7 separate regions of the Homo sapiens genome follow, and all the other regions are linked to region 5. Evidence: fine-mapped expression QTL. A gene starts in region 5. Each other region holds a variant in brackets. All regions are shown on one strand. Distances are from middle to middle.

Region 1 (4,270 bases), 490 kb before region 5:
ATCAGGGCGCCTTCCCTATTAAGGGCTGCTGGTGAAATGAGACATTGAATGGAATGTACATGGCACAGTGTCCAGGACACAGTAAATGGTCAATACGTGATGGTGTTAGCTCCAGAAGTTATTGTTGATGACAATGACTCCCGTGCCCCTCCAGCCCACCTTTCTCTCTCCTCCCGGGTTTGCTCACACCCTCTGCTCTGGCCCGATGAACTATGGACTAGCCCACCGAATGCTGCATTCCCAGCCTCCAAGCTCTCCCTCACATTGCACCTATTCAATCCTTCCTGTCTAAACTCTCCCCTTCCTCCCAGGCTTACTCGAGTGCTTCCTGTTTTATGCAGTGTTCGTGGGTAGGATTCATGTCAGATTGACTTTGGTGTTTTTCAGCATGAACGAAAACCCTTGGATATAAGGGGTGTTCACAAATGTTGAGTGAATGAAGGAGGGAATGAATCAATGAATGAAAGCTTATGACTGTGTTTGGTGGAAGGGCACTGATGGGAGCCTGTAGGGGGAATAGATCAGGGAGGATCTGTGGGTTCCGAGGGCGCTAAGGTCTCATGTCATTGCTGCCAATCGTCCTGAATGAAAGGCAAGACTTCCTGGGTTTCTTGGTGAAGTGAGATGGGGAGGCCAACCCATTTTCTACAGTGTGATGTCTAATGAACTCTGTAAAGTGCTTCTATATGCACCAGCCCCTTAGTGATAGTTTCCTGAAGGTTAATATACTCTTCAACTCGGACATCCCTACACAAGAGGCCAGATGAACTCCCTCAGAGCCTGCTCGATTCTGAGCTCTTAGCTGAAGTTTTCTCCAGCTTTGAAAACCTGATAAAAAGTTGCAGTTGGCCCACAGCTCACAGCCTAATGCTCACGGTCCGCTGGGCCCACCAAGCCAGCAGGCCCCCATACAGTGCCTTTGTATGAACTGGATGGGGAAAAAAAAAAAAAACATCTTTTCCCCTGAGCCAGGGTGCATGGCTTGGCATGCAGGATATGGACTGGAAATCACACCTCACCACTTCCCTCAGCTTGAAGCCCCTTACATGGTACATACACACATACATACTCTCTATGTTAGGAAGAGAATGTGAAATTGGGGTGCTCTTTTGGGAATTACACATTCTGGGGGCTCAGCACAGGTGTTGCAACCAAGTAGTATGTAAAATATGAGGCTGGGCACAGTACCTCTTGCTCAGTCTTTCTTGAGCTAAAGAGCACTGGTCCAAGCCAAGTGTATACATATGCCTAAGACCACATCCAGCCCAGCCAAATTACTCAACATGCAGATGAACTTACGGAAATCTGTTATCAGAATCTTTCTCTATGAAACAGAATTATTATTATTATTATTATTTTTGAAAGAGCCTTACTCTGTCACCCAGGCTGGAGTGCAGTGGTGCGATCTCGGCTCACTGCAACCTCCAACTCCTGGGTTCAAGCAATTCTCCTGCCTCAGCCTCCTGAGTAGCTGGGATTACAGGCGCCCACCACCATGCCCAGCTAATTTTTGTAGTTTTAGTACAGATGGGGTTTCATCATGTTGGCCAGGTTAGTCTCGAACTCCTAACCTTGTGATCCGCCCGCCTTGGCCTCCCCAAGGGCTGGACTACAGGCATGAGCCACTGTGCCTGGCCTATGAAACAGGATTTTGATGGCATAGTCACTCTCCTTGGGGGCAGAGAGAGTCAGGGGGATTTGGGTGCACACGATTTGTATCTCCTTTTTTGCCATCAAAATGTTATGTTCCATAAAACCTGCAATAACGACATCACATATTCACCCACTGAATGATAGCTTTGTATTGATGCAACTCAT[C/G]ATTAGGGTCTGGGCTACAGAAGCAAGAATCAACCACAAAAGAACTAGACATCAGACAGTGGGCACTGCCTTTCTTTTGGGCTCATAGCCTTTTTTCAGTAAGGCCCACCCATGCTGTTTTCATCTGATGCTGGCTGTGTGGGACAGTTTTAATTCTACATTTCTATAACACATGTCCAATTCATTTTTTTCTCCCTACACAATCCCTATTTGGATTGGAAGAATTGTCTGGCCATCAGACCCGAGCCCCACAATACATTTGATGAGCTATGAACTGTAGTTCCTCCTCCTGCATCTCCCCCAAACCCCCACAAAAGACAGCAGCCAGCCTTCTGCCTGGAAAAGAATCTTCCTTTGGGCACTGCTATGCCGAGGAAATGGAAGAACGTGGGTGTGTATTGCTGAAGCCTGAGGCTGCCAAGCCACCCATGACTCAGAGGCGCTTCCTGGGGATCAGCATTGGCTTTTCCTCCACATGACTTAGGAATATTGAGTTAGTGCGATTTGAGTTCCCAGGCTCACCTCCAGTCCCCCTCTGCAGCAGCAGGGAAAAGGGGGAGCTTTCCTGTCCAGTGATCATGGAACCTGGGCACCTGTCCCCAACCCCAAAGGCACGATGTACCATCCCTTCACCCATCCCTGCCACTCCCTGCTCACTGGGGAGGTGACCTGAAATATTTAAGGGGGACTCCATGAGTTTGGGGGGTCTCAATTCAAACTCCTTCCTTCAAATCCAAACTTCAGGAAGCAGAGGAAAGATAGAGACACTGAAACTCCACATCCTTCTCATGACAGAGGAAATGAGCATCTGAAGGTGATTAATTGTCTTTATTGGAGGAAAACAGGAAGTCATCAATCTCATTATCATTATGATAGAAATCTTGATATGTATACATGATTGTCAAGGCAGAGAATCATTTGCTACATAGACCCATGAACAATTTTGCAGTGCCGCAAACCTATGTGGGTTAAACTTCTTGCAGAGTTTATTACATGCATGGAATAAATTCACAGTTTCCCTTCTTTTGGACAAACATGTTTTTATGGGAAAATTGAACCAATTGCAAGCCTGGTAATAGTAGATGCGGGGACATTCCTGGTTTTGATGTTGTAATTTTTTGGGAAGCATGCTCACTGTTGGGGGAGCTGAAAGAAGGGAGATTACATTATGTGTAGTGACAAAAGCCAATTGAGAGATTGTTCCAATGTTTATTCTGGACAGAGGGTACCTTTGAGGTCTTCTCACCTGAACGTGGGACTAAGATAAATGTTCTCTGAAACATGGCGCCCCATCTTTCGAAGCAAAGACTCTGCTGCATGCAATGTCGCTGCATTTCTGCCACCATTCGGACAGCATTTCATGTCCCTCTGATAGGGCCAAGTGCCCCGGGAAGGAGAGTGGCAGGTGTCAGGGCTGAGAGACAAACATCCGAGCTGATGTTCTTGTTCCTTTTTAGCTCTCTCGCAGCCTGGCTGCCAACCACGTCCCAGGGCCCCTGTGCCCTGAAGTGCAGGGCTTCCAGGAGAGCCTGGGAATCTGAATCTGTCTAGATTAAGATTTTCCTCCGAGAAGCAATTTAACTAGAGTTTGGGGTTTCTGAGCCCCTGCTGAAGTCTTATCTCTAAGAGTAAAACCAACTCCTCCTCATTTTCTTTTTTCCTGTCCATAAGAAAATAAAATCACCTTTAAAATAACATGGCAAATCATCAGAAGACATAATAATCGAATGAGAAGTTCCCCGGAGACAAAAAGGTTAAAAAACGGATATGGCGAATGCAGAAGCGGTGTTATAGTACAAAGGGTGAATGCAACCGTTTGTCCCTTTATACAGACACCGAGAAGCCATTCCACAGTTTGCTTTGTCCACAAAACCAGACTCGGCAGCCGCATGCTGAGCGTTTGGCTTCCAAATGCACAGCCTTTTTGGGTTTGCAAAAGCGGAGCTCCCAGAGCCACAAACTGAGCTGCTCCTGCTGGAGGTGGCGGGGAAGTCTGGGAAGGGCTGACTCCTTCCCACTGACTCTGGAGGCATCGGGAGGTGGCCGGGCCTCGGCCAGCATGCAGGACTGACTTCACAGTGGGGCTGGGGGCCCAGAGCTGCAGACCATGATGCCCCGGGACCACCGAACAGGTGCCAGGTGAGTGGGGCGTGGGCCCTTATCTTCCTCAGACCGCCTGCCTGCTCCCCAGAGTTGAGGTTGTCAAGCTAACTCATCTGCACACTCATTTTCTTGGAGTCTTCAGGAAAGAAACCCTCCTTTTAGGAGTCTGTTTGAGCTTTTCTATCTCCACATTTTCAATTCTGAACATCGAAAGACTGGAATATCTTTTGCAAATGTCAGGCACACCTGCAGCCCCAACCGAGGACCAGGTGCCCCTCAAAAGGGTGGTGGATCACATACAGGTATATACATCTTTTTTTTTTTTTTTTTTTTTTAACAAACTGAACAG
Region 2 (4,270 bases), 39 kb before region 5:
TATCATGGCCTGAGAAAGGGTTTTCCTCATTCACGAGAGAAGACAGTGTTGGCCCAACACTGAGCTCTGGAGTTTTTGCCAGAACTGAGCTTGGACCCCTTCCCACCTCCTACTCACTCAATGCTGGACTCTGAGCACATTAGTTGACCCCACACAGAATCTCATCAAGTTGATTCATAAAGTCAGGACTATGCACAGCATCCTCTTATTCACGCACGCTTGAGCCTGAGTTCATTCTGAATCTAGTGGGCCAGAAGGATGGCTCCGTGGGGACAGCTGGACCCGTATTCCAGGCTTGGATAGGTGACTCGCTCACTAGCTGTGTGATCTCAGGCAAGTCCCTCAACCCTTCTGGGCTCCCCTTTCCTCTTGGGTCCTTTACACGTTCGACTAGAAGCTTCTGCTCCCACGTGACATGACCCAAGGGGGAACACACAGACTGGAAACAGGCAGGCTGCACAAGTCCCGGAGCTCATGGTTAGCCCTGGCCCTGCACTCTTACCTGGGTTTTGCCTGGGCACAATGGACCCTATTCTACCCTCAACTAGTTGTAGGATCTTGAATAATGGGGCTTAACTTTCTGTGCCTGATGATAAAGACAGTTTAGAGACAGACGCAGAGACAGATATAGTGACAGAGATAAAGACAGAGACAGAGCTAGAGATACAATGTCTCTTCTAGCTCTAGAATTCTACTTATATGAGAAATTCCTTCCATTCTGAATAAAACAGAAACTAAGGTTGAGCAAAGTGGCTCGTTCCTATAATCCCAGCAATTAGGAAGCTGAGACAGGAGGATCACTTGAGGCCAGGAGTTTGAGACCAGTCTAGGCAATGGAGCAAGACCCCATCTTTTTTTTTAATTTTTAAAAAATAGAGACAACTACTTTATAGTTCTTCGGCCACTGGTGCAAATCACTAGCAAATGCAGTATGAAAATTTTGCATCAGCCTAGAATAAGGACACCGTGCAGTACAAGCGCTTTATAAAAGGTAAAAATATGGGAGACACAGGACTATTCATTCCTCCAGAACAGTTTATTGGTCATGCACATGTCCTCAAATTAAATTCCCCCCAAGATCACCAGCCACCTCCAAAAGTTAAACTCACCTTGCCCCATGGGGCAGGACCTCCCATGCACAGCACAAAGATGACCCACAGGAAAAATAGCCTTCTCTTTGAGGCTCAAGGAGATGTTCTACTACAAGTGCCTATGATGAATTCATCCCTTCCACTGACCTAAATGCAGACAGAAGGCATCAAAAAAAAAAAATCAAATGACAATCCAAAGCCACAGATTTTGTGACCATTTTGCTCTCAATCCTATTCCCCAAAAAGGAAGCACCTTCAGACAGTAGGTGACAAGGACACTGTGTCCAGAGAGGGCGTTTTCATCTAACTACAACTTTCAAACTCACGGCCATTAACATTCACCCAAAATAACTGGACGGTCGCCAACCAGGAAAGGGCACGTTACTAAAACCGGCCCTCCAGCCTCCGAGAGGCTCAGCAGAATTCTGCTTGCTGTGAGTAGGGAAGGAAGCAAGGTCTGTTTATTCTGCCAACGTGCAGAGAGGCACAGTAACTAGGTCACGTTCTCACTCAGGCCTGGATGAAACCACCTGGATGCTCCAAGCCCTCGACCCTGTGGTGCTGGGCAGAAGCTGAGTCTCCTGCACTGAGCACCTCTCCTTGAAGCCTGAAGACACCTCTGGCCACGCACCCCAAGGAGAGCAGTGTC[G/A]GGATGGTCCCAGAATCCTTGATGTCCCAAAGAGCCTGTCCCAAGAGCAATGGGCAGAACATGAGCCTTGGTCTAGGCACAGACCCGGGGCTGGCACGCGCCACCGCCAACCACCTGCCACCCAAGCCCCTCAGCCCCCTCTGCAGGGAGTTTAAGCAGTAACTGACCACACACACCCCCACGCCACCCTAGCATAGAGAACACTTAAATCTGGAGCTGGTGGAATCACCAGAAACCCAAATAATTAGCCTCTCTCTAAGCAGAAGCTGATGGAAGCTCACAGTTGACCCATCTCGCCTCTTCCTCCAGACCTTGGACAGATCGGACAGGAAGGACCTTCCATGGAGTATGGTGGTGTCTCCATCAGCTGCGGGATGTAAATCACACAGACGACACGACAATGTGCTTCCCAAGTGAAATCGCAAGCCACGCCTTTACCGCAGGCTCATCAAGTGTTTTCCTCCAACGACAGGCTTTCTAGAACAGCACGACGTGCCTCCAGGGGAGCGTGGTAACAAAATCACATTCGTGCTGCATCTCACGACTTCCTAAGCGGTGGGATGGTTTTCCCTTCACAGCAGACAAACCTCGCATTGCCACACAGTATCTGAAAAACTGCTGGAGCCTCTAGCCCCAGGTAATGACGGAGCTGTCTTTGAGCCCCGCAGAAGTCTCCCAAGTAGGCATTTTTAACAATTTATTAATTTGAAACGCATGTCAGGTGCGATGTGTTTTTGCTCTTGCCTTTTAACCTCTGCAATTAGCAGACAGGTATGTTTTCTTGTGCCTCTTAACAGCCCCCAACAGAGAAGACAAAACACTCAGACTGCCAAAAACATTTCCTGGGCCAAGAAGGCACACCAGCGTAGATGAAGGCTTTTTTCTCTGCTGTAAACCAGTTTTTGCCTCTGCTCTAAACCTCGACACTCTTATTGACAGACAGAGAATCTAGAAGCTGGAGTCTGGGGGAAAAGCTGAAAGCAAGAAAACTGGTTAAGTTTCAAGGTTGATTCGGGGAGAATTCGACAGTAACAAGGGCTTGGGCCGGGCACGGTGGCTCACACGTGTAATCTCAGCACTTTGGGAGGTCAAGGCCAGCGGATCACCTGAGGTCAGGAGTTCGAGATCAGCCTGGCCAACATGACAAAACCCCATCTCTACTAAAAACGCAAAAATTAGCCAGGTGCGGCGGCACACACACGCCTGTACTTCCAGCTACTTGGGAGGCTGAGCCAGGGTCTTCTTTGGTGAGCGCATTTCTGGAGACGATCCCAGAAGCCTCCTGAGAGTCACCTCAACCTACTCAAAGAACAAGCAAAGATGCCTGGCTGGCAAGATGCCTACAGAAAGGGAGGTTCCCAGGGGAGAAAAGAGCTGAGGCTTCTTCCCTCCCACAGTGGGCTCCATCTGCTCACTCACTCATGACAGCAACTAAGCATTGGTGGGGCGCCAGCAGGGGCGAAAGGGAAATTTTTGAGCCCAGTCTTTCACAATGAATAAAATAGTTCAGAACTTACATCCCGATAGAGGATAGTTAGCATTTATTGAGCAATTATTATGACATAAAGATACACACACAGGCCAGGTACGGTAGCGCATGCCTGTAATGCTAGCATTTTAGGAGGCTGGGGTGGGCGGATCGCTTGAGCACAGGAGTTTGAGACCAAGCTGAGCAACATAGCGAGAACCCATCTCTACCAAACAAAATACAAAAATTAGCCAGGGTTCCAGCTACTCAGGAGGCTGAAGTGGGAGGGTCACTTGAGCCTTGTGGGTGGAAGTTGCAGTGAGCCGAGATTGCACCACTGCACTCCAGCCTGGGCCACGGAGCCAGACCCTGTCTCAAAAAAAAAAAGCAACCGAGATACACATAATATAACTTTCATTAAGAGTTTACAATGTCTATATATATATATATATATAAAATATATATAATATATAAAATATATAAAATATATATAATATATAAAAATATATAATATATATAATATATAATATATATATTATATATATAAAATATAATATATATATCTCAAACTCAATGAAAGTTAGCCATTATATATTATACATATAATGTGAGTGTCAAAGCGTGAAGGCTGTCACTACTCTATGAATAGCAATAATTGTAAAATGAAATATGTAACGGTAACTTTTTTTTTTTTTTTGAGATGGAGTCTCTCTTGGACGCCCAGGCTGGAGGGCAGTGGTGCAATCTCAGCTCACTGCAACATCCGCCTCCTGGGTTTAAGCAATTCTCCTGCCTCACCCTCCTGAGTAGCTGGGACTACAGGTGCCCGCCATCACACCTGGCTAATTTTTTTGTATTTTTAGTAGAGACGGGGTTTCACCATGTTGGCCAGGCTGGTCTCAAACACCTGACCTCAAGTGATCCACCCGCCTCAGCTTCCCAAAGTGCTGGGATTACAGGCGTGAGCTACTGCGCCCGGCTGAGTAAAGTTATCTTCGTAGTTCTACATTATTATTATTTTTTATTAAAGTATCAAAACATTATATTGTATGTGAATTTACT
Region 3 (4,000 bases), 190 kb after region 5:
GGCTTGCACCACCGTGCCCGGCCGATTTTTATTTGTATTTTTTTAGTCATGACGGGGTCTCGCTATGTTGCCCAGGCTGGTCTCAAAACTCCTGAGGTGAAGCGATCCAGCGGCCTCAGCCTGCCAAAGTGCTACGATTACAGATGTGCGCCACCATGCATTGCCAAGAGTTTTATTTTAAAATAAACCAAACACTTACATCTTTGGCTGAGGAACCAGACACTTCAATCCATGTCTTAGAGAAGAATGCACATGACCCCAACATGAAGATGATATAAACAACGACATGGACAGGATCCTCAAAGATGGCGCCCATGGACTCAGGAGGAGAAAGATAGTAACAAAGGCCTCCAACTGGGTAAGAACGTGCGGGTCCTCCCCCACTGACATCCTACAGAACAGGAGTACAAAGAACAAGTGGTCAACCTAATTAGTCAGGAATACATTTGCATGTCACTTCAAACTTCTCAGAAATGACAGTGTTTTAAGTTCAAGGCATCTACAGCTAGTCATTCTATGTAGTTTCAGAATGTACTTTTGTGTCTACTACCTTCACTCCTTCAAAGTTATACGATGAACACCTATTACATGCAAGACACTGTGAAAATATTGAGTCATTTTTAAAAATTGTAATATATTACAAAATCTTCCATTACTGAAAATAGGAATATGATTACATTTACAATCAACCTCTGATTATACTTAAAATCTGAAATTTTCTGAGCTATGAGAGTATCCAGTCAGTACATTAAGATCCCTATGAATGATCCTTCCATATGAAAATATTAATGCAATCAACTAAAATACTGACATAAGACTTTAACTTGCTGCCTAGACTTTATGTGGTTTCTATGTTATAAGGAGCAATCTTTTAATAAATATAATAATTGGATTTTTATCTATATACTTAAATCTTACAGAAATAGGAACAGCATTATTTGCTCATATTAAATAAAGTTTTGGGGTATACAGATAGGGGGTGAGAAACCAATTTTTAGTTGCGATGATTACAGTATCTGGTTCTTGAATTTATGACTGCCCAATGATTTCTTTACTGTGCCCCTAGAATCATTAATCCCAGATCAAAAGCACTATCTCCCAATCATTCTCTCATTCAGAAGAATCTTACTCAAAATCATAACACAAATTGTACAGGACCAACTACTCAAAGCACTATCACTATGACATTCTGATCAGAGTAATAGCTGCTGCTGGACTATTCTAAGGAGGGCAGAAACAGCATTCTTCTTATTCCTGTCTCTTGACTTTCCTGTCCTCGATATAATATTAGCCAGAATACAACAGAGATCATCACATTTCTCTTAAATGAATGGGAAAGAAGTATTATGAATAAAGGGAATCCTATTCCCTTCAACTAATATATGAGTTACTGTCTTATTATCTTAAAAAAACCTTTTTTTTAAATGACATTCAGTAAAAGCAGAAAGGTATGAGTCTTTGTAACTTATAATGCAAAAAAAAAGCATATTAAGACAAATGCACAGAATAAACACCATATTTCAAGAATAACTGTACAGAAAAATACTATTCTTTGGTGGGGTGCAAATTCTAGAATTACCTACTGTGGCAAAGAATAAAGGACATTAGTCTTTTAAAATTCTATTATTTTTGAGACACGGTCTCACTCTGTCAACCAGGCTGGCATGCAGTGGTATGATCACAGCTCACTGTACCTTCAAACTCCTGGGCTCAAGCAATCCTCCCAACTCAGCCTCCCAAGTAGCTAGGACTACAGGCACGTAACACTGTGCCCGGCTAGTTTTTAAGTTTTTTTGTAGAGATGGGGTCTCGCTATGTTGCCCAGACAGGTCTCCAACTCCTGGCCTTCAAGCTATCCTCTCTCCTTGTTCTCCCAAAGTGCTGGGATTACAGATGAGAGCCAACACGCCTGGCTAAAATCTATAATTTTAAGAGGGAAAATACCCCTTTGTTAGGTGACAGAATTTAAACCAATGAAAATTCAGTCCCACAGTAACTCACGCTTCAATAACAGCGTGGCTAGATGGCTTTAGAAAAAATTATGGGCCGAGTGTGGTGGCTCACGCCTGTAATCCCAGCAATTTGGGAGGCTGAGTCGGGCAGATCACAAGGTCAGGAGATCGAGACCATCCTGGCTAACACAGTTAAACCCCGTCTCTACTAAAAATACAAAAAATTAGCTGGGCGTGGTGGCGGGCGCCTGTAGTCCCAGCTACTTGGGAGGCTGAGGCAGGAGAATGGCATGAACCCGGGAGGCGGAGCTTGCAGTGAGCCGAGATCGTACCACTGCACTCCAGCCTGGGCGACACAGCGAGACTCCGTCTCAAAAAAAAAAAAAAGAAAAAAAAATTATGATGGGGGATGTATATGAGAATGTATAGGATTATATTACTAGCAGCACCGCTGTCTCTACC[G/A]TCTAGTTAATAGCATGCCTATCTCTAGCCCAGCTCATCACAAGCTGGCTTATTGCCATTCAGACCATGAAAAATGGAGGAGGCCTGGAGGCAGGGTGGGAGATAGGAAAGGTTAGGATGAGTCCAGTATCTCACATGTTAGCAGCAGCAAATAGCATTTTTTGTTTTTATTTTTTGGAGACGGAGTCTCGTTCTGTCGCCCAGGCTGGAGTGCAGTGGCGTGATCTCAGCTCACAGCAACCTCCATCTCCTGGGTTCCAGCAATTCTCCTGACTTGACCTCCTGAATGGTTGGGACTACAAGCACCTGCCACCACACCTGGCTAATTTTTGTATTTTTAGTGGAGACGGGGTTTCACCATGTGGCCAGGCTGGTCTCGAACTCCTGACCTCAGGTGATCCACCCACCTCAGCCTCCCAAAGTCCTGGGATTACAGGAGTGAGCCACCGCACCCAGCCAGCAAATAGCATCTTTTAGAAAGCATTATTGTAGACAATACTGGAATAAGATGACAAAATAGGAAATTACTTTTATGAAATCAACCACAATTTTAGCTTAAAAGGTCATTCAAATGAGATGTGAAAGTGCTTCCTAGAGAGCAAAATAATAAAAAGCGCTTGGGCAATCTTACTTCTGCAACACTTACCAGTTCTTCCAGATAAGTACTAAACTCTGCTATATAGGTAAGTGAATCTGAAAATACAGCAAATGCTCCAATGTCGACCTCATTCCATTAAAAATACAACCATGAAATGCAAATTATAATAAACTATAAATAATGTAAATAAACATAATACTCACGGCCCACTGTCCTAGTAAATTTACTAAAAAGTTGCCACTAAATCGAACAGACAGCATCTGGGAAATAACATACAGGTTGGACACCAGGGCCGACTGGAGGATGATGGGGATGTTGGAGGTGTAGAAGAGTTTGATGGGGTAGCTGCTGTACTGTCCTCGGTAACGGGCCGACTTAATGGGCAGATCAACGCGAAATCCCTAAAAAAGGAAACGGAGAGTAAGTGGGGGAGCCAGACACATTAAGAAAAGAACAGAGACCAGAGAGGGAAAACAAAGAACAGTGCGGGGGATGAAAAGACAATGCCGGCCGGGCACAGGGGCTCAGGCCTGTAATCCCAACACTTTGGGAGGCCGAGGCGGGCAGATCACGAGGTCAGGAGATCGAGACCATCCTGGCCAACGTGGTGAAATCTCATCTCTACTAAAATACAAAAAATTAGCTGGGTGTGGTGATATGCACCTGTAGTCCCAGCTACTCAGGAGGCTGAGACAGGAGAATCGCTTGAACCCAGGAGGCGGAGGTTGCAGTTAGCCGGGATTGCGCCATTGCACTCCAGCCTGGCGACAGAGCAAGACTCCATCTCAAAAAAAAAAAAAAAAAAATTAGCCGGGCGTGGTGGCACGTGCCTGTCATCTCAGCTACTCAGGAAGCTGAGGCAGGAGAATCACTTGAACTCGGGAAGAGGAGGTTAGAGTGAGCTAAGATCGCGCCACTGCACTCCAGCCTGGGCAACAAGAGCAAAACTCCGTCTCAGGAAAAAAAAAGAAAAGAAAAGACAATGCTA
Region 4 (4,270 bases), 310 kb before region 5:
GCTGCAAACCTAGCAGTACTATCATCTAGCCTGTGTTTTACCATCCCATCCATAAGGAGACAATTAGATGCTTTGCAGAAGTAGAATTCTTCAGCTCTACACACCACATAATACTATTTAAAAGGGAAATGGGATGTTCGGGAAGATTTGTTCTTAGTAACCCATGTTAGCTCCTAGCAACCACTACAGTCTTTACTAAATGATCACAAACCATCTGCTTAATTTTCTGTTCCAGAATTTTGCTGTGCATTGAAGTCAAGCTTTCCAGTCTATAGATCTCATCTTCTACCCTTTATATGTTTGGGAATTTTGACAACCTCTCTTACATTGTTTTCTCAAACATTTCAGCTGTGACTCTTCTGTGATAAGTGCAATTTCCTCAGTCCCCTGGGATGTCACAGATCTAAACCTAGTGATGAGCTAATTTTATAACTTTTGTTAGGCCTTGCTTACATTGCTGTTTTATTGTACCATTTATTGTTAACTATGTGTTAAGACTGCACTAAGTATTTTTAATTATTTCATTTACCATTAACAACAAGCCCATGAAGTAGGTATTATTTTCTCAATTTTTAAAAGAGGAGAAAATAAGGAAGGAGACTAAGATCCCATGAGGCTAGGTAAGTATTCCAAGATCACAGAACTCATAATTGTCATTGCTGAGATTCAATCTATGTCTATTCTCACTCCCTAGCCCATGTTAAAGCAATTACGCTATAACTTAACTAAGTTATGAGACTATCCAAGAGCTCATATAAATTCAGTTATTTCTATAAAATTAGAATATCTAAAGTCAAAGTATTAATGCCATCATTAACAATATAATATCCACTTCTGTGGGTGCAGAGATTTGTTGAATTATCTTGAATCTAGTGGATGTGCTCAAGATACTCGGTTGTAAACATCCTAACAGATGAAATTCCAGTGGGTCAGACAGAATCAGAAAAAGACATGTTGAAAAGCAGAAGGAATAGGGAGAAGTCCAGAGTAATTAGAAAGAGGTTCTCCTTAGCCCATATCTGCTAGTGTCATCAAAAAAGAGAATCAACTGAACAGAGAAAAGAGGCAGAGATGTCAGTTATAGGCAAATGGAAAATGGAGATTCTGTCAACTAGCACAGCGAAATCCCAGAGGTCAACACTCTTTCCAAAGTATGGCCAAGAGGATCTTCATCCATAAGGGATGTTGACTCTCAAACAGCAAAATGTCCTGAAATGTGCGTAATTCAAAGCCATAATAATGTCACTGAAAACAACTTCAGGTGATAAAAAGAAACTCAACTTAATTTTCATCACTTATCATTTACCAGGCCCAAAGTAAGCATGAGCTGACACATCTATATACAGAGAGAAAATGGTTTATATGGCAACCTACATGAAAGCCTCCATAATCTCCAATAATGCACAGAAATGGTAGAGGGAAGTGGGTCCAGGCAGAGAGAGTCAACTTGAATGGGAAAAAAGCACATGGGCATTGAAGCAGACTTCTGTCCATATAGTAACTGACAGCCAAGCAAGAAAACTCCAGAAAAAGCCAAGAAAACATTTTAAAATTAATTCATGCATAAAAAATAACTGATACCAAATGTACAAACAGGCCCCGTTACAAAGCCCCCAAGCTTTGTAAGGGAACATCAGGACCCAAAGGGTCAGCCTGCTACTGACTACACGTGCTTCTGTGGAGTGAGAGTAACATCTTCCCCTCCAGCCTCATGTACCCCAGTTCAAGGATTCACAAATTTTTAACTCCATGGCAAATGAGGAAAATTTAAGAAAAAGAAAGAAAAAGCAAAGCACAAAAGAGAGGAGAAAAAAAGTTCAGCATTTCTCACTTTTTCCATTCGATCATTTTACTGATCTGCAGGGCATCCCTGGAAGCAATTATGAGGTAATTCAGAGGAAGCAAAAGACCACAAAATGCCTTTCCTTGCTATTGCCATTCTCTAGTAATGGGCATTGACCTACTTAGGTTATGAACGCCAGATGAAGACAAGGGATGTAAGAAAATACAATCGGAAGGGAGAGACAAGAGTGAAACTGATTATAAGAGAGGATGAGGTGGGGATAGCGAGGCACAGATTGCCCTGCAATGTGCAAGGAG[A/G]AAGTTACGTCAACGAGCCGCAATCAGCTTCCGGTCCGCTTTTCAGGCACTTCCGGGTTTACAGTCTAGTCTGGGAAAGGCCTCTCTCCGCAAGCAAAGGCCATAGAGGACCAGGTCTTTCACTACCCACCATTGTCACTCTAAGCAGCCCAGAAAGCTGAAATTTTATTCACACAAAAAGAGAGGCGTGGTTCCCTGGCATGGAATTGCCTCAAAAGTACTTGAAGAATATTGTGATGTCTTGGCAAACCCTCCCGTTTATCTAAGTAAACGCTTATGTTTTTTCGAAACTGAAAAAAAAATCATTTCCTCCTTACTAGGGTCAAATTCTTGTTTTCTCACATTATAATCAGTGTGGGAAATAATGCTGAGAAAATTGGGATATTGTCAGTCACAAGAACAGTGATAGCACTGAAATATTGGCCAGATGGTATTAAAAGTAATACCTTTCATTTTAATAAACAGGCACATTGGCAGGTGTTATTTCATTCTGCAACAGCCTTATAAAGTAGGCATTATTATTCCTATCTCACAGATGATCACTCACAGTTTATAATCACTTAATTGTTCTCCCCAACTCCCTCTGGTCTCACTCTCTTCCTATCCATTTTCCGTGCTGTCTCCTGAGTGATCTCTCCAAAATATAGAACTGATAAAACTTCTTAGCATGAAATCCAGCACTGGCTCCCTGTAGTACAGGAGAAAGTTCAAACAACTGGCATGGCTTACAAGTCACTTGTTACTTGTGAAATGGGAAAAGTTCCCTTATCCCACTTGCAGGGTGTGCGACAGGGGGACTGGCTCACGTTCTCAGTGCCAGCTGTTGATAATCCTAGGGGAGCATGCAGACGGGCAGGCTGTGGGCCTCCGACCCCACAGCAGCATCTGGGGTGAATGCTTACAGCTTCCGAAGCCCCAGTGGGCATGTGTTACAGGGTGCTCTTTTAGTTTTGCCATCTGTAAGCAGCTTGTGTTAATCAGCTCTATTAGACCCTCTGCCTTATCACAAGGACAGAGGGCTTTCTGTATCCTGGGGTTCTTGCCTTGGTGTACCGGAAAAATCGGATCACACGTGGGCTTGGAGAATGAGTGCAAAGTTTCTTATGGAGTGGTAGCTCTCAGTGAGGTGGAAGGGGAGGCCAGAAGGGGAATGGAGTGGGAAGGTGGTTTCCCCTGGAGTCATGCTGCCCAGCGGCTGGGCTCTCCTCCAACTGCCCCAGCCAAACTCCACGTCCTTCTGCTGGTCAATGGCCTGATGGTGTCTTCTGCTGCCTGTGGGTCTGCCGGTGCATTCCTCTTGATGTCCAGCCATTTGTGTGTGTGCCCACTAGGGTCTCAGGGTTTTTATAGGCACAGGATGGGGACATGGTGGGCCAGGGTGGTCTTGGGGAAGGCAACATTTGGGCACAAAAACAGAAATGCCTGTCCTTACCTAGTTTTGTGCACATAGGCCTGGGGGTGGAGCACTAGGCATGGACCATGACTTTCCCTTTCCCAAGCACTTCCCTGCCCCCCTCCCCTATCACTTGGTCTTTACTTGCCCATCCCACATCATCTTCCACCCTGCCCCACACCAACATTTTACTGAACCCCGGCAGGTCTCGCACACCCCGCCCTCCCCAGCCATGCACACCTTCGTCTCTGAGTGTGCTCATCACTCTCCTGTCTTCTTACGAAAATACTCATCCTTTAAGACTCATTTCTCTATCACCTCCACTGAGAACCCTTTGCTGTTTCTCACAGCTTGCAGCACCAATCACCTTTCCTCTGGGTCACCCCAGTTCTTTGTTTTTTTTGAGACAGAGTCTCATTCTGTCACCCAGGCTGGAGTGCAGTGGCACGATCTCGGCTCACTGCAACCTCCACCTCCTGGGCTCAAGCAATTCTCCTCTCAGCCTCCCGAGTAGCTAGGACTACAGGTACGTGCCACCATGCCCAGCTAATTTTTGTATTTTTAGTAGAGACAGGGTTTCACCACATTGGTCAGGCTGTCTCGAACTCCTGGCCTCAGTTGATCCGCCCGCCTCAGCCTCCCAAGGTGCTGGGATTACAGGTGTGAGCCACCGCACCTGGCCCACCCCAGTTCTTGGATCACCTTGCTGTCTGTACTGCATTGTATCCAGGTATCTGTTTGTATGTAAATGTGTGTGTGTATATTTAAATGATCTTA
Region 5 (4,000 bases):
TTTTTCCCCAAGGTGGAAACCACCCACAGTCATCTCCAAACACCATGCTCCAGCAGGAGCCACAGCTTGGAGCCTCAGCAGCCCCGCCACTGCAGAGGTGCAGCTGCACGAGTCAGTCAGGGGACAGGGCATCAGTCACCCGGAGGCTACAGGCAGGAAGCCAGTGTGGGGGGCTCGGGTGGGAACAAGCCACGGACAGGAAAGCATTCACACAGGGTGGGTCCCCATGCTCTCCCATCTCCTCATTGGCGGCCACAGTGCGGGTCCTGGATGACAAGCAAAGGCCATGCTTTCTTGTCTCTCAGTAACTTGAGCATCTCAGAATCACAACCCCAAACCCGAATAAACCTCAGTGGCAATTTTCAAAAGTTTTGACCCAAACTAACCCCTTACCTGGCTGCACTAAGAGGCAACCCCAAACCCCTATTTATTAAAAAGCTACATCTTTTTCTGTTTTCATTCCAACAAAGATAGCAAATAGGTGCCCTCCCTGAAAGGCAACAACCACAGCAGGGAGACCCCACTCTAGTCCTCAGCGTGCGCCTTCCCGGGAATCAGAAGCAGGACTGGGAAAGCCACCCTCACAACTTCTCTCCGGGGGACCCCCTGCAGATCTGCGTGGGGGTGAGGGGAAATGACTGAACAGCAGCAGACGCCGAGCCTGGAGGTGAAGACAAGCTGGGTAATGTGGTGCTGGAAAAAAGAAACCAAGCACAAAAACAAGCACACGGAAAAAAAGGAGGAAGGAAAGAAAGGGCACCCAACAACGCACTGATTTATCCCATGAAATAGCTCCCCTTTCTCTTCCCAGCCTAATCAACACCTCCATGAACCCCTGCAAAATGGGCATTTCTGACTGCACACCTGTGCGTGAATCCACACTGACAGATACTGATGCAGAGCAAATACTGATTGTGTGAGGGAAGGAAATAACTTGAACTTCAGACTCATTCGGCAGGTCCTGATTCTCTTTCACTATCAGCCTCCCCACCTATTCTGAGCCGCTCCGAAACAAAACAAACAAGACCCAACTCCTGGGCAGAAAGGGAACAGCAGCTGAGCTGAGCAGCACATGCTTGGAGCGTTCCTGCCATCGACTTCGGATTATTTCTGCTTTCTTGAGACACAGCCATCAGCATGGGACTCGATGCAGCCCGGAGAGAGCACCGCCCGCGCAGCGACGCGCACAGACCCTCCCTTGGAGACGCGCTCCCCGGCGCGTGCGGCCGAGCCCGCGTGAAATGCACAGACCCTCCGGTGAGGCTCTGCCCACGTGTGACCCTGAGCACTGCGAAGCCCTTCCCTTCCATCCTCGCGTGGCCACCCAAAGTCTTGCCTACACCTCGTACGTGCAGATGCCAATTCCATAGAAATACATGATGTAAGGACAGAAATGGGAACGACTGGAGGCTGATCTTCTCGTGACCACGTCTCGCCAACGCGGTGCGCCCATGCACACGGCGAGTAAACGCACACAGCCGGTAAACAGCCATCCCCACCATGCTCAGCCCACAGTCACGCGTGGGGAGAAGGCAGCGGAGAGGGCGGCGGTGGCAGGAGAAGTGGGAAGTCGCGCGCCCGCGTGGGCTGCTCCCTGACAGCCCGGCGCTGCCCCCTCCCCCTCCCGGGAACGGCGCCCACCCGGGGGTCGCAGGCCCACGCGTCGGGCGCGCTCGGGGGGGCTCCGCAGCGCCGAGAACGGGACAATGAGGACGCGGTGACAGGCTGGGTTTCTGCCGCGGTAGTGGCGGCGGCGGCAGCTGGAGCTGCCCGTGCAGCCCCTGCCGCGGCCACCTCCACCCTCGCCTCCCCGGTCCCCACTTACGTTCCGAGGGTCTCTTTGAACTCGAAGATCTTCTTGATGTCTTCAGCTTGCTTTTTCCAGGAGGAGCTGCTCTCGCCGTTCTCCCGGGCCATGGCCGACGAGCGCGGCGCGGAGGAGCGGCCGGGGGCGCGCTGGGGAGGGGGCGCCGGGGGCGCGGCGCGGGCGCAGAGGCGGCGGGGATGCCGGGCGGCTCGGGCTGCGGCGCAGCTTCCTCCTCTGCAGTTTCCTCTTTCGCTCTCGCCGCCGCCGCCGCGGCCGCGGTCCCTCCCTGGCTCTTATTTCTGCTGTTCTCGGGCACAGACTTCCTGCCGCCGCCGCGCGCCGGCTCCTTTGCCGCCGCCTGCCAGCCTCACTTTCTGCTACTTTCTTGCCTCCCTCCCGCTCCCTCCCTGCCGCCCGCCGCGCTCCCCCCCACCTCGCGCCTCCTCCCCCTCCTCCCCCTCCTCCCCCTCCCGCGGGCTCCCCGCCCTCTCCGTGCGCCCCGGCCGCTCCCCGCCTCCAGCGCGCCGCCTTCGGGGATGTCCCGCTCCCCTCCCAAGAGCGCCGGGCCACGGCCGTCGTGCCCCCTGGAGCCCCGGCGAGGGCGGGTACGGGCCCCCGGCAGGTGCGGGGCGCACGCGGGAGAGCCCCAGCCCCTCCGGGAGCTGGAAACGGAGCCCAGTCTGGGGGCGCCGGGGCTTTCCCGTCTCCGGCGGGAGGGGGCGCCTCTGCGTGGCTCGGAAGCGCCGGGCGGGCGGGGGTGCGCGGCGGCCGGATGCGGGGCGCCGAGGGCGGGGCGCCTTCCCGCGCTGTGGCCTGTGGCCCGGGGGACCCGAGGGGCAAGGCGTGGGGTGGGGGGGGTGGGGGCCGGTTGTTATGGCGACGGGCGGCGGCGGCGGCTGGGATGGAGGCGGAGGCGGGCGGGAGCTCATTCGCATTGCACCAAATCGGTTTCACGTCAGTTTCGGGACAGACCCGCGAGGAGCAAGCCGGGGAGCCTCTGGGCGGGTACGCGCAGGACGCGCCAGCAGCTGCCTCGTGGTCCCTTTGCGAGCAAAACTCCCGGGGGTGTTTGGCAGCCGCGCGGGCGCCCTGGTGCTGGGCTGGAGCGGCCGGCGGGCCTGGCCGGCCTGGTTGCCCTGGCTCACGCTTGGCCCCTTCTGGCATCTCCCTGTCTCCTCCCAGAGACTCAGTGGAAAGAAGTGATCGTCTGCCCCGCAGTCCCCTCGAAGGAGGAGCCCACCCGCGGCTGGCTTAGTAGGGTGTCCGGGTTGCGGGGCAGGCACCTGCTTTCCTATGGACTGCCAAAACTAACCCAGAGAATTCCCTCCGGACTCCCATCTCCCAGCTGTACTTTGGCCTGCCCGCCCCACTCCTGGTGTCCACCTGTCAGAGGGCAGCCCACGTGCTCCAGTTCCCTGGTCCCCAACCTGCAGGGGCGACCTCTTGATCGGAAAATTTTAGATTTCTTGGTATCAACACTTCGCCTCCCTCAGGGCCTCTCCTCGTAGTTGGGTAAACAGCTCTGTCTCTTGACTGGGGACACCTGTCCCATTTTCCCAGGACTGTTCCAATTTCACTGTAAAAGGAAAAAAAAAATCTGCTCCCTGAATAGGAAACTTCATCCAGCACCTTGTGCCTAGTTCTGACTCTGGCTGAAGTGGAGGCAGCCCAGCTGCTCTCCCTCAGCCCCTACTCTGACCCTAAAGAGGTCAGACGACACCCTGGCATCCCCATTCCTGGGACCTCCATGCTAGTTTCCATCTTTCAAAGACGGTTAGCTTAAGGTTTTCCAAACTGAGAAGAGCAAAGAGGGGATTTACTTGCCGGTTAGATGTAGAATAAATCCACAAACCCAATTTCCAACACGGATGGGTGAGAAGAATTACTAAGGAACCTCTCTTATACTTGAGGCACATTACCAAAGTTCAAGGCAAACAGCATCCCCTTCAATAAGAAACATTTGAAAAACTATCATGTATTTTACTTGTGCCAAAGGTTAGATAATACAAACAGTGGGAACCAGGGCATAAGTCAACTAAGATCCCAACTGTCGCTTTCTCATGCCTACAGTCAGCATCTTCTTGTCCTTTCTTTCTCCTTCCCTTCCTCCCACTGTGTTTCCTTCTCCTCTTTTCCTATTTGGTTCTCTGCTATGTTGCCCTTGCTGCCTGGCCTCAGGAACAGCCGCCAGAG
Region 6 (4,000 bases), 110 kb after region 5:
CACTTATTTCAAAAGATCATCTGTCTATATCCCATCTGAGAAAGGGCCGCCTGTCTGAATAGACAGAGATCTAAAGGGAGGGCCCCCTGTGAATGAAGAGAGAAGGGACCCAGTAAAGCTCTGCCTAAGAGATAACGTTCCAACTCCAGCCTCAAGCCACAGTGGAACTTTAAGTCAAAGATTCCAGCAGGGCCGGGCATGGTGGCTCACACCTGTAATCCCAGCACTTTGGGAGGCTGAGGCGGACAGACCACTTGAGCTTAGGAGTTCAAGACCAGCCTGGGCAACATGGTGAAACCCCATCTCTACAAAAAAATATAAAAATTAGCTGATTGCGGTGGCAGACGCCTGTAGTCCTAGCTACTTAGGGGGCTGAGGTAGGAGGATTGCTTGAGCCCAGGAGGTCAAGGCTACTGTGAGCCGTGATCAAAACACCACACTCCATCTATCCTGGGTGACAAAGCAAGACCGGGTCTCCAAAAAAAAAAGAAAAAAAGATTCCAGCAGGAAAGGGAACTGTCACCCAAAGGCGAAGGGTCTGCGGTCTGACCAAAGCGTCTTCCCGGAGCCTTCAGTGCTCTGTTCAGGGGGAGCCGGACGGAGCCAGGCAGTGCCTGCGACTCCAGAGAGCAGCGCTTCTGACTCGGGAAAGGCTGCTGCCAAGGGTGGATTTTTTTACCATATGCAAGGATGAAGATGCTGGGTTTTTTTCTGTGGTTTTTGTTTGTTTTTTGTTTTTTGTGAGAGTCTCACTCTGTTGCCCAGGATGGAGTACAATGGTGCGATCTCGGCTCACTGCAACCTCCGCCTCCTAGGTTCAAGCGATTCTCCTGCCTCAGCCTCCCGAGTAGCTGGGATTACAGGCATGCGCCAGTATGCTTGGCTAATTTTTGCATTTTTACTAGAGACAGGGTCTTACCATGTTGGCCAGGCTGGTCTCGAACTCCTAACCTCAAATGTCCTCCCACCTTGGCCTCCCCATGAGCCACCGTGCCCAGCCTGAAGATGCTGTTTTCTTTCTATGTGAATGTGGTAAGTGTTCCGTCTGTACAATAGAGCTTGACAGCATATGAAGGGGACGTAAAAAAAAAAAAAAAAGAAAAAAGAAAAAAAAAAAACCACCCCAACCTCTGAAAGAAATGTCTACCTTGTCCTGTTCTGAAACCACAGGTGGGCAATTTGGTGACTCTCCTCAGGGAAAGGTCACCTTTGAGCTGGGGGCACTGTGCTGAGGTAGGGCTGGGGCCTCTGAGCAGAAAACAGCCAGTGCTGACACGCACAGAGCGGGGGCACAGGGGCTGCGCCGCCAGGAATGACGGCCACGGCATCCGATCACGAACACCTATTGACACGAAGTGGATGGATGTTTCCTCGAAAGGTTTATCTTTGCTCCTTTTCACTTTTCTCACTGAAACATTCATATATTTGTGCCATCTGGTTAATAATGAATTTGTTTTTTTCTATAAATGTGTTGCCGCCATGTCCTGAGCGGGTGTGTGTCTGTGAAATTCCAAGCAACAAGACCGCTGAGCCAGCATGCCTAATATCTGGCACTGTTTCTCAGCTGAGCGAGAGCAAACTGTTAAGAAAGATGCAACATCTAATTAGGACTTGCTTCAAATACCAGAACCTCCAGTTAAGTGGCACAGGCCTGTCGCAGGATGTTTTCGCAGGATGTTTTCAGCACAACCCATT[TA/A]GGTAAGTTCCTCATTTTATACAAGCCCCAGGAGAGGCCCTGCAAATTTCTCACCGCTTGAGTTGTTTCCTCACCTCCATTTGGCACCCACTTCTTCATTCCTGGAACTATGTGAAACAGTATCAGCCGTCAAACAACTTCTTGGTAATGATGTCAACTTTATTTTGGAGAATACTGCTAAGATGTCTTCAATATATGTCATGATACAAAATGGACATTTTCTAACCTCCAAATCTTTTCTACTTGACTTTCTTTTTTTTTTTTTTTGAGATGGAGTCTCGCTCTGTCACTCAGGCTGGAGTGCAGTGGTGCGATCTCTGCTCACTACAACCTCCGCCTCCCGAGTTCAAGTGATTCTCCTGCCTCAGCCTCCCAAGTAGCTGGGACTACAGGCGTCCGCCATCACGCCCAGCTAATTTTTTGTATTTTTAGTAGAGACAGGGTTTCACTGTGTCAGGATGGTCTCGATCTCCTGACCTCGTGATCTGCCTGCCTCAGCCTCCCAAAGTGTTGGGATTACAGGCGTGACCCTCTGTGCCCAGCCTCTACTTGGCTTTTTATAGTCAGTAAAACTAACTCATTTTTTTTTAAACAATCACACTTTTAATATAGGAATATGCCACAATGCAAAAAACCAAACCACATTTTTTCCTTTTTTTTTTTTCACTCTTGTTGCCCAGGCAGGAGTGCAATGGTGAGATCTCGGCTCACTGCAACTTCCCCTTCCTGGGTTCATGCAATTCTCCTGCCTCCACCTCCTAAGTAGCTGGGACTACAGGTATGCACCACCACGCCTGGCTAATTTTCTATTTTTGGTAGAGATGGGGTGTCACCATGTTGGTCAGGCTGGTCTCCAATTCTTAAACTCAGGTGATCTGCCCGCCTAGGCCTCCCAAAGTGCTGAGATTACAGGCGTGAGCCACTGTACCCAGCCCAAAACACATTTTTAAATGAAAACAAACCACCACTGTTAATTGGTAGTGTACTCTGTAGCTCAGAAGCTATCCTCTAGTACAAAAAAAAAGAGTTTAAGTAAATTAAAAAAAACCCAGCTGTAACTTCTATAAACTAGGAGGATCAGGATCAGGATTTTATAACTTTTTTTTTTTGAGACAGAGTCTCGCCCTGTTGCCCAGGCTGGAGTACAGTCGCGCGATCTCAGCTCATTGCAACCTCCTCCTCCTGGGCTCAAGTGGTTCTCCTGCCTCAGCCTCCCAAGTAGCTGGGATTACAGGCGCCTGCCACTGTGCCTGACTAACTTTTGTATTTTTAGTAGAGACGGGGTTTCACCATGTTGGCCAGGCTGGTCTTGAGCTCCTGATCTCAGGTGACCTGCCTGCCTCAGCCTCCTAAAGTGCTGAGATTACAGGTGTGAGCCACCACGCCCGGCCATAACATGTTTTCATGTGACATCTCAAGCACAAACAGCCTGAGAAGTTAATTCTGCTTTGAGGCAATCCAATAAGCAAAGAGCAGTCGGACTAACTGTCCTTGTACCAGCTGACTGTCTCCCTGCCCCGATCAAGCTCTAGGGACCAGACACTGTGTTAGGCACTGGGCATGAAGATCGTAACACAAAATCGACTCCTTCCAAGAGCTCAGGCTTGAGCAGAACACACATCTCCACTTCCCCAAAACAGAACCAAAAGCCATCCAACAATGGCAATGTGCAGGGTATTTTGCTTCAAGAGAGGCAAGAACAGGGAACTGTGAGAGCGGAGAGGCACACAGGAGAGCCTGCCTACATGTGCGAGGGAAGGCTGGAAATGCTTCCCAAAGGACCTGGGCACCTGAGGGATAACAGAGATGCCCTGGGAGGAGGGTGGTGTTGGCAGGAAAAGCGGACCACTTAACAAGAACGACGGCTCTCACGTACAGAGGCCACGCCACGACCGCCTGTTGCGGGAATAGGTTATTTTGGCTGGAGTGTGAGATATGTGAGGGCTCCTGAAATACAGCCAGCTATGTAACTCTCAAGGCTTGCTGTTCCAAACAGGATGAAACACATGCTACGACAAGCCGTTTAAAAGTGTAATTGAGATTATGAGAAAGACCGGGAAATCCCCCGGGGCCAGAAACAAGAACCCGAAGAACAGAACTAAGCCTATCAACTCTAGTGCTGTGGGAACCCGTGGGAGGGTCTCCTAGCAGCCTGGCCACAGGAAGGGAATCAGAACTCAGACACAAACTCCAGAAGGCGACAGTCTCAGGAAAGGGAGTGTGAGGAGACAGTTCTAATGACAGGGCAGGACACAATGACTGTTCTTCTCTGAATGAGTTTTGAGGAACATGGTAGAAGCAAAT
Region 7 (4,000 bases), 84 kb after region 5:
GCCGGTCCTGGTGGTGGGTGCCCGTAGTCCCAGCTACTCCAGAGGTTGAGGCGGGAGAATGCCGTGAACCTGGGAGGCGGAGCTTGCAGTGAGCTGAGATTGCGCCACCGCACTCCAGCCTGGGAGACAGAGCGAGACTCCGTCTCAAAAAAAAAAAAAAAAGGCTGGGTGTGGTGGCTCATACCTGTAATCCCAGCACTTTGGGAGGCCGAGGCAGGCAGATCACAAGGTCAAGAGATTGAGGCCATCCCGGCTAACAGGGTGAAACCCCGTCTCTACTAAAAATACAAAAATTAGCTGGGCGTGGTGGCACGTGCCTGTAGTCCCAGCTACTCGGGAGGCTGAGGCAGGAGAATCGCTTGAACCCGGGAGGCGGAGGTTACCTTGAGCCAAGATTGCGCCACTGCACTCCAGCCTGGCGACAGAGTGAGACCCCGTCTAAAAAAAAAAAAAGGCAAAACAGATACACAAAAATAGAAAATCTAAATGGTTCTATATTTATTTATTTATTTAAGTCTCTCTCGGTCGCCCAGGCTGGAGTGCAGTGGCGCGATCTCGGCTCACTGCAAGCTCCGCCTCCCGGGTTCACGCCATTCTCCTGCCTCAGCCTCCCGAGTACCTGGGACTACAGGCACCCGCCACCACGCCCGCCTAATTTTTTTGTATTTTTAGTAGAGACGGGGTTTCACTGTGATAGCCAGGATGGTCTCGATCTCCTGACCTCGTGATCCGCTGGCCTCAGCCTCCCAAAGTGCTGGGATTACAGGCGTGACCACCGCGCCAGGCTATATATATATATTTTTTAATCAAATCTATAATAGAGGCCTTTCCTAAAAAGAAAAAAAAAGCCTTTTGAACATATATATTGCAGAATTACATAGGATTACATTTCTACACCAATTATATTGCCATTTAAAAATATTTCTCACTTGGTTACATAAAAATATTATTCTACAACAGTGTAATATGCATTTTTTATTCTGTCTTGAACATCTTTTTATATATTTATTGTATATTTGTGTTTTTTCCTTTATGAATTGCCTGTATAACATCCTTAACCCAATCTTATTTTGTTTAATTTTGAAGTCCTTTTATTTGTATGTTAACTATATTAAGCTTTGATCTGGCATATTTGTTACAAATTTTTTTTTCTATTAGTTTGGCTTTTGATTTGGTAAATGACATTTTAAAACATGCACTTGTTTTTAAATTGTATTTGAAATTTTTAAAAAAGAATAGTCTACCTGAGAAGACCTCTGAGAAATATGATTTTCCATCTCATTACAGCTCCATGACACTGTAGCGTGCCTTACAGATTGGCACCGCTAACAATTATACAGCGAGCTGGTCTACCTCTCAATGCCTCTTGATCATGAGCTCTCAGGAAATGACAGCTCCGGGAATTAATATCCAGAAGACGAGTCTTGGCCGGGCGCGGTGGCTCACACCTGTAATCCCAGCACTTTGGGAGACCGAGGCAGGCGGATCACAAGGTCAGGAGAGCGAGACCACCCTGGCCAACATGGTGAAACGCTGTCTCTACTAAAAATACAAAAATTAGCTAGGTGTGGTGGTGTGTGCCTGTAATTCCAGCTCTTTGGGAGGCTGAGGCAGGAGAATCGCTTGAACTAGGGAGTCGGAGCTTGCAGTGAGCCGAGATCGCACCACTGCACTCCAGCCTGGCGACAGAACGAGACTCTGTCTCAAAAAAAAAAAAAAAAAAAAAAAAAAAAAGCCTCTGGGCCCACCTCTTCTCTTCAGGGCTCCTACAGATAACACATTGGTCCTGGCCACTAAAATGTCCCAATGCCAGCTGAGAGAGGAAGATAAGAACTGGCAGGCCCCCCTTTCCTCTGGAAGTTGTGTCATATTCTGTGAACTTGGCCTCAAGAGGGAGATAAGAACTGGGTAAGGCTCACTTCCCCACGGAGATGGTTTCATGCCCAGTA[G/A]ACACTTGCCCCGAGTCCGGAGAAGCAGTAGGTGCTTTGCAAATATTTACCTAGCTACATGGCAACCGGGCAGTGCTGTCAGAGTTCTGTGTCATTTCTGGGCCACACGCCCCACACCCCATTCTCTCCTCTTGCATTACAAAGGCTACGTCCCTTCCCACAGCTACCTTTCCACAAGTGTTCAAAACCACGTGAAGGTCAGACTCCTTTGATTTCTAAATCATGCCCTTAGCCAAGATTGAACTTCCAATAGAGAAAATTTTAGGTTTGCTTTCATGTGTGAGGTGAAATGACTGTCCCTTTGTCAGAGGCGTTTGAACCAGAGCAACTCCATCTTAAACAGGAGCTGGGTAAAATAAGGCTGAGACCTACTGGGCTGCATTCCCAGATGGTTAAGGCATTCTAAGTCACAGGATAAGATAGGAGATCCGCACAAAACACAGGTCATAAAGACCTTGCTGATAAAACAGGTTGCAGTAAAACAGTGGCCAAAACCAACATGGCGAGGACAGTGTCCTCTGGTGGTCCTCACTGCTACACTCCCACCAGCGCTATGACAGTTTACAAATGCCAAGGCCACATCAGGAATTACCCTGTATGGTCTAAAAAGGGGAGGCATGAATAATCCACCGCTTGTTTAGCGTATCATCCAGAAATAACCATAAAAATGGACAACCAGCAGCCCCCTGCGCTACTCTATCTATGGAGTAGCCATTCTTTTATTTCTCTACTTTCTTAATAAACTTCCTTTCACTTTACTCTATGGACTCGCCCTGAATTCCTTCTTGTGCGAGGGTCTCTTGGGGTCTAGATCGGGACCCCTTTCCGGTAACACCTTAGATTTAAGAGTTCAGGTTCATCCTTCCTTTGTCAGGAATAAGTATCATAAGCAACACAGCCTTTGCTTGTTGCTAGTTCTTTTTTTTTTTTTTTTTTTTTTTTTTTTTTTTTTTGAGATGGAGTCTCGCTCTGTCACCCATGCTGGAGTGTAGTGGTGTGATCTCGGCTCACTGCAACCTCCACCTCCCAGGCTCAAGCGATTCTCCTGCCTCAGCCTCCCCAGTAGCTGGGATTACAGGCGCGAGCCACCGCGCCCGGACACAGCCTCTGCTAGTTCTGCCACTGATCTTCCCACAGGTACATTAAGGAAACTCAGTGTTTGGCGCTTAAACAAATCAACAACAACAAAGCATGGTAGAGAGAAGGCCCAGAGCACCACCCTCCCACGCTGTCCCTCGGGAGCTGAGGGGAAAACACCCAATGCCTTCAGAGACCAGCTGCACTAAACCGCCTTCTCAGAATGAGGGAGGAGCTACTGGCTTGGGGATGTCTCCAGAGCACATTTCTAGAAACACTTGAGAATACGAGAGAAAGAGAATACGAGAGGAAGGCCTAGGTCACTGAAAGCACAGGGAGCAATTTAGGCTTTTGTCTCGGTGTAAATGACATCGTGAGCCGTGCCCCCGCCCCTGCTCGTGGCCTGAGGGCCTGGGGGAGGGCGGGCATCCACCTGGCACTGGCGGCCTCGGCCTTCACCGCCGCACGCGCGGCGCCATCTTGTGGCCCATCCCTTTCCCAGGCTGGAAGCAGCCACAGGCCGATTCTTCCAGCCTTACAAATTCTGTGAAGTACAGTATTTAGACTATTTTTGATTAGTTTAAGAAAACAGCATGGCCAGGCGCGGTGGCTCACGCCTGTAATCCCAGCACTTTGGGAGGCCGAGGCAGGTGGATCACCTGAGGTCAGGAGTTCGAGACCAGCCTGACCAATATGATGAAACCCCATCTCAACTAAAAATACAAAAATTAGCCAGGCGTGGTGGCACACGCCTGTAATCCCAGCTACTCGGGAGGCTAAGGCAGGAGAATCGCTTGAACCCGGGAGGTGGAGGTTGCAGTGAACTGAGATGGCACCACTGCACTCAGCCTGGGCAACAAGAGCGAAACTCTGTCTAAAAGAAAAAAAAGAAAACAGCATTATGCTCAACAAATTAACGCAGAAACGGAAAACCAAATACCGCATATTCTCACTTATTAAGTGGCAGCCAAACA

Evidence for each region. PIP is the estimated chance that this variant, and not a neighbour inherited with it, causes the effect.
Region 1: its variant is fine-mapped to the expression of CAMK1D in whole blood (INTERVAL, PIP 0.97).
Region 2: its variant is fine-mapped to the expression of CAMK1D in whole blood (INTERVAL, PIP 0.97).
Region 3: its variant is fine-mapped to the expression of CAMK1D in whole blood (INTERVAL, PIP 0.98).
Region 4: its variant is fine-mapped to the expression of CAMK1D in whole blood (TOPMed, PIP above 0.99).
Region 6: its variant is fine-mapped to the expression of CAMK1D in whole blood (TOPMed, PIP above 0.99).
Region 7: its variant is fine-mapped to the expression of CAMK1D in whole blood (TOPMed, PIP above 0.99). The same link has a PIP of 0.9 or more in atrial appendage, left ventricle, lung and neutrophils.

The regions. Positions count from the first base shown.
Region 1 is chr10:12,833,903-12,838,172 of GRCh38, reverse strand. It overlaps CAMK1D (calcium/calmodulin dependent protein kinase ID), which reads right to left. Exons shown (of 11, transcript NM_153498.4): 11 at 2,628-4,270. Among named protein-coding and RNA genes, the nearest start is that of MIR548Q, 110 kb to the right of the region's middle. The variant C/G (reference allele first, on the strand shown) is at 1,819.
Region 2 is chr10:12,386,839-12,391,108 of GRCh38, reverse strand. The region is part of intron 1 of CAMK1D (calcium/calmodulin dependent protein kinase ID); the gene reads right to left. Among named protein-coding and RNA genes, the nearest start is that of CAMK1D, 39 kb to the right of the region's middle. RefSeq lists enhancers at 1,818-2,318, 2,368-2,867. The variant G/A (reference allele first, on the strand shown) is at 1,741.
Region 3 is chr10:12,157,321-12,161,320 of GRCh38, reverse strand. SEC61A2 (SEC61 translocon subunit alpha 2) reads right to left here. Exons shown (of 12, transcript NM_018144.4): 9 at 3,216-3,413; 10 at 200-391. Among named protein-coding and RNA genes, the nearest start is that of MIR548AK, 29 kb to the right of the region's middle. The variant G/A (reference allele first, on the strand shown) is at 2,415.
Region 4 is chr10:12,657,774-12,662,043 of GRCh38, reverse strand. All of the region lies in intron 2 of CAMK1D (calcium/calmodulin dependent protein kinase ID), which reads right to left. Among named protein-coding and RNA genes, the nearest start is that of MIR4481, 6.7 kb to the right of the region's middle. The variant A/G (reference allele first, on the strand shown) is at 2,101.
Region 5 is chr10:12,347,736-12,351,735 of GRCh38, reverse strand. It overlaps CAMK1D (calcium/calmodulin dependent protein kinase ID), which reads right to left and starts at 2,189. Exons shown (of 11, transcript NM_153498.4): 1 at 1,826-2,189. The coding sequence starts at 1,917. RefSeq lists enhancers at 1,041-1,200, 1,375-1,874 and silencers at 1,911-2,000, 2,171-2,730, 2,771-3,030.
Region 6 is chr10:12,241,747-12,245,746 of GRCh38, reverse strand. All of the region lies in intron 10 of CDC123 (cell division cycle 123), which reads right to left. Among named protein-coding and RNA genes, the nearest start is that of CDC123, 48 kb to the right of the region's middle. The variant TA/A (reference allele first, on the strand shown) is at 1,696.
Region 7 is chr10:12,263,845-12,267,844 of GRCh38, reverse strand. No RefSeq gene overlaps it. Among named protein-coding and RNA genes, the nearest start is that of CDC123, 70 kb to the right of the region's middle. RefSeq lists enhancers at 3,156-3,255, 3,130-3,668 and a silencer at 3,476-3,535. The variant G/A (reference allele first, on the strand shown) is at 1,950.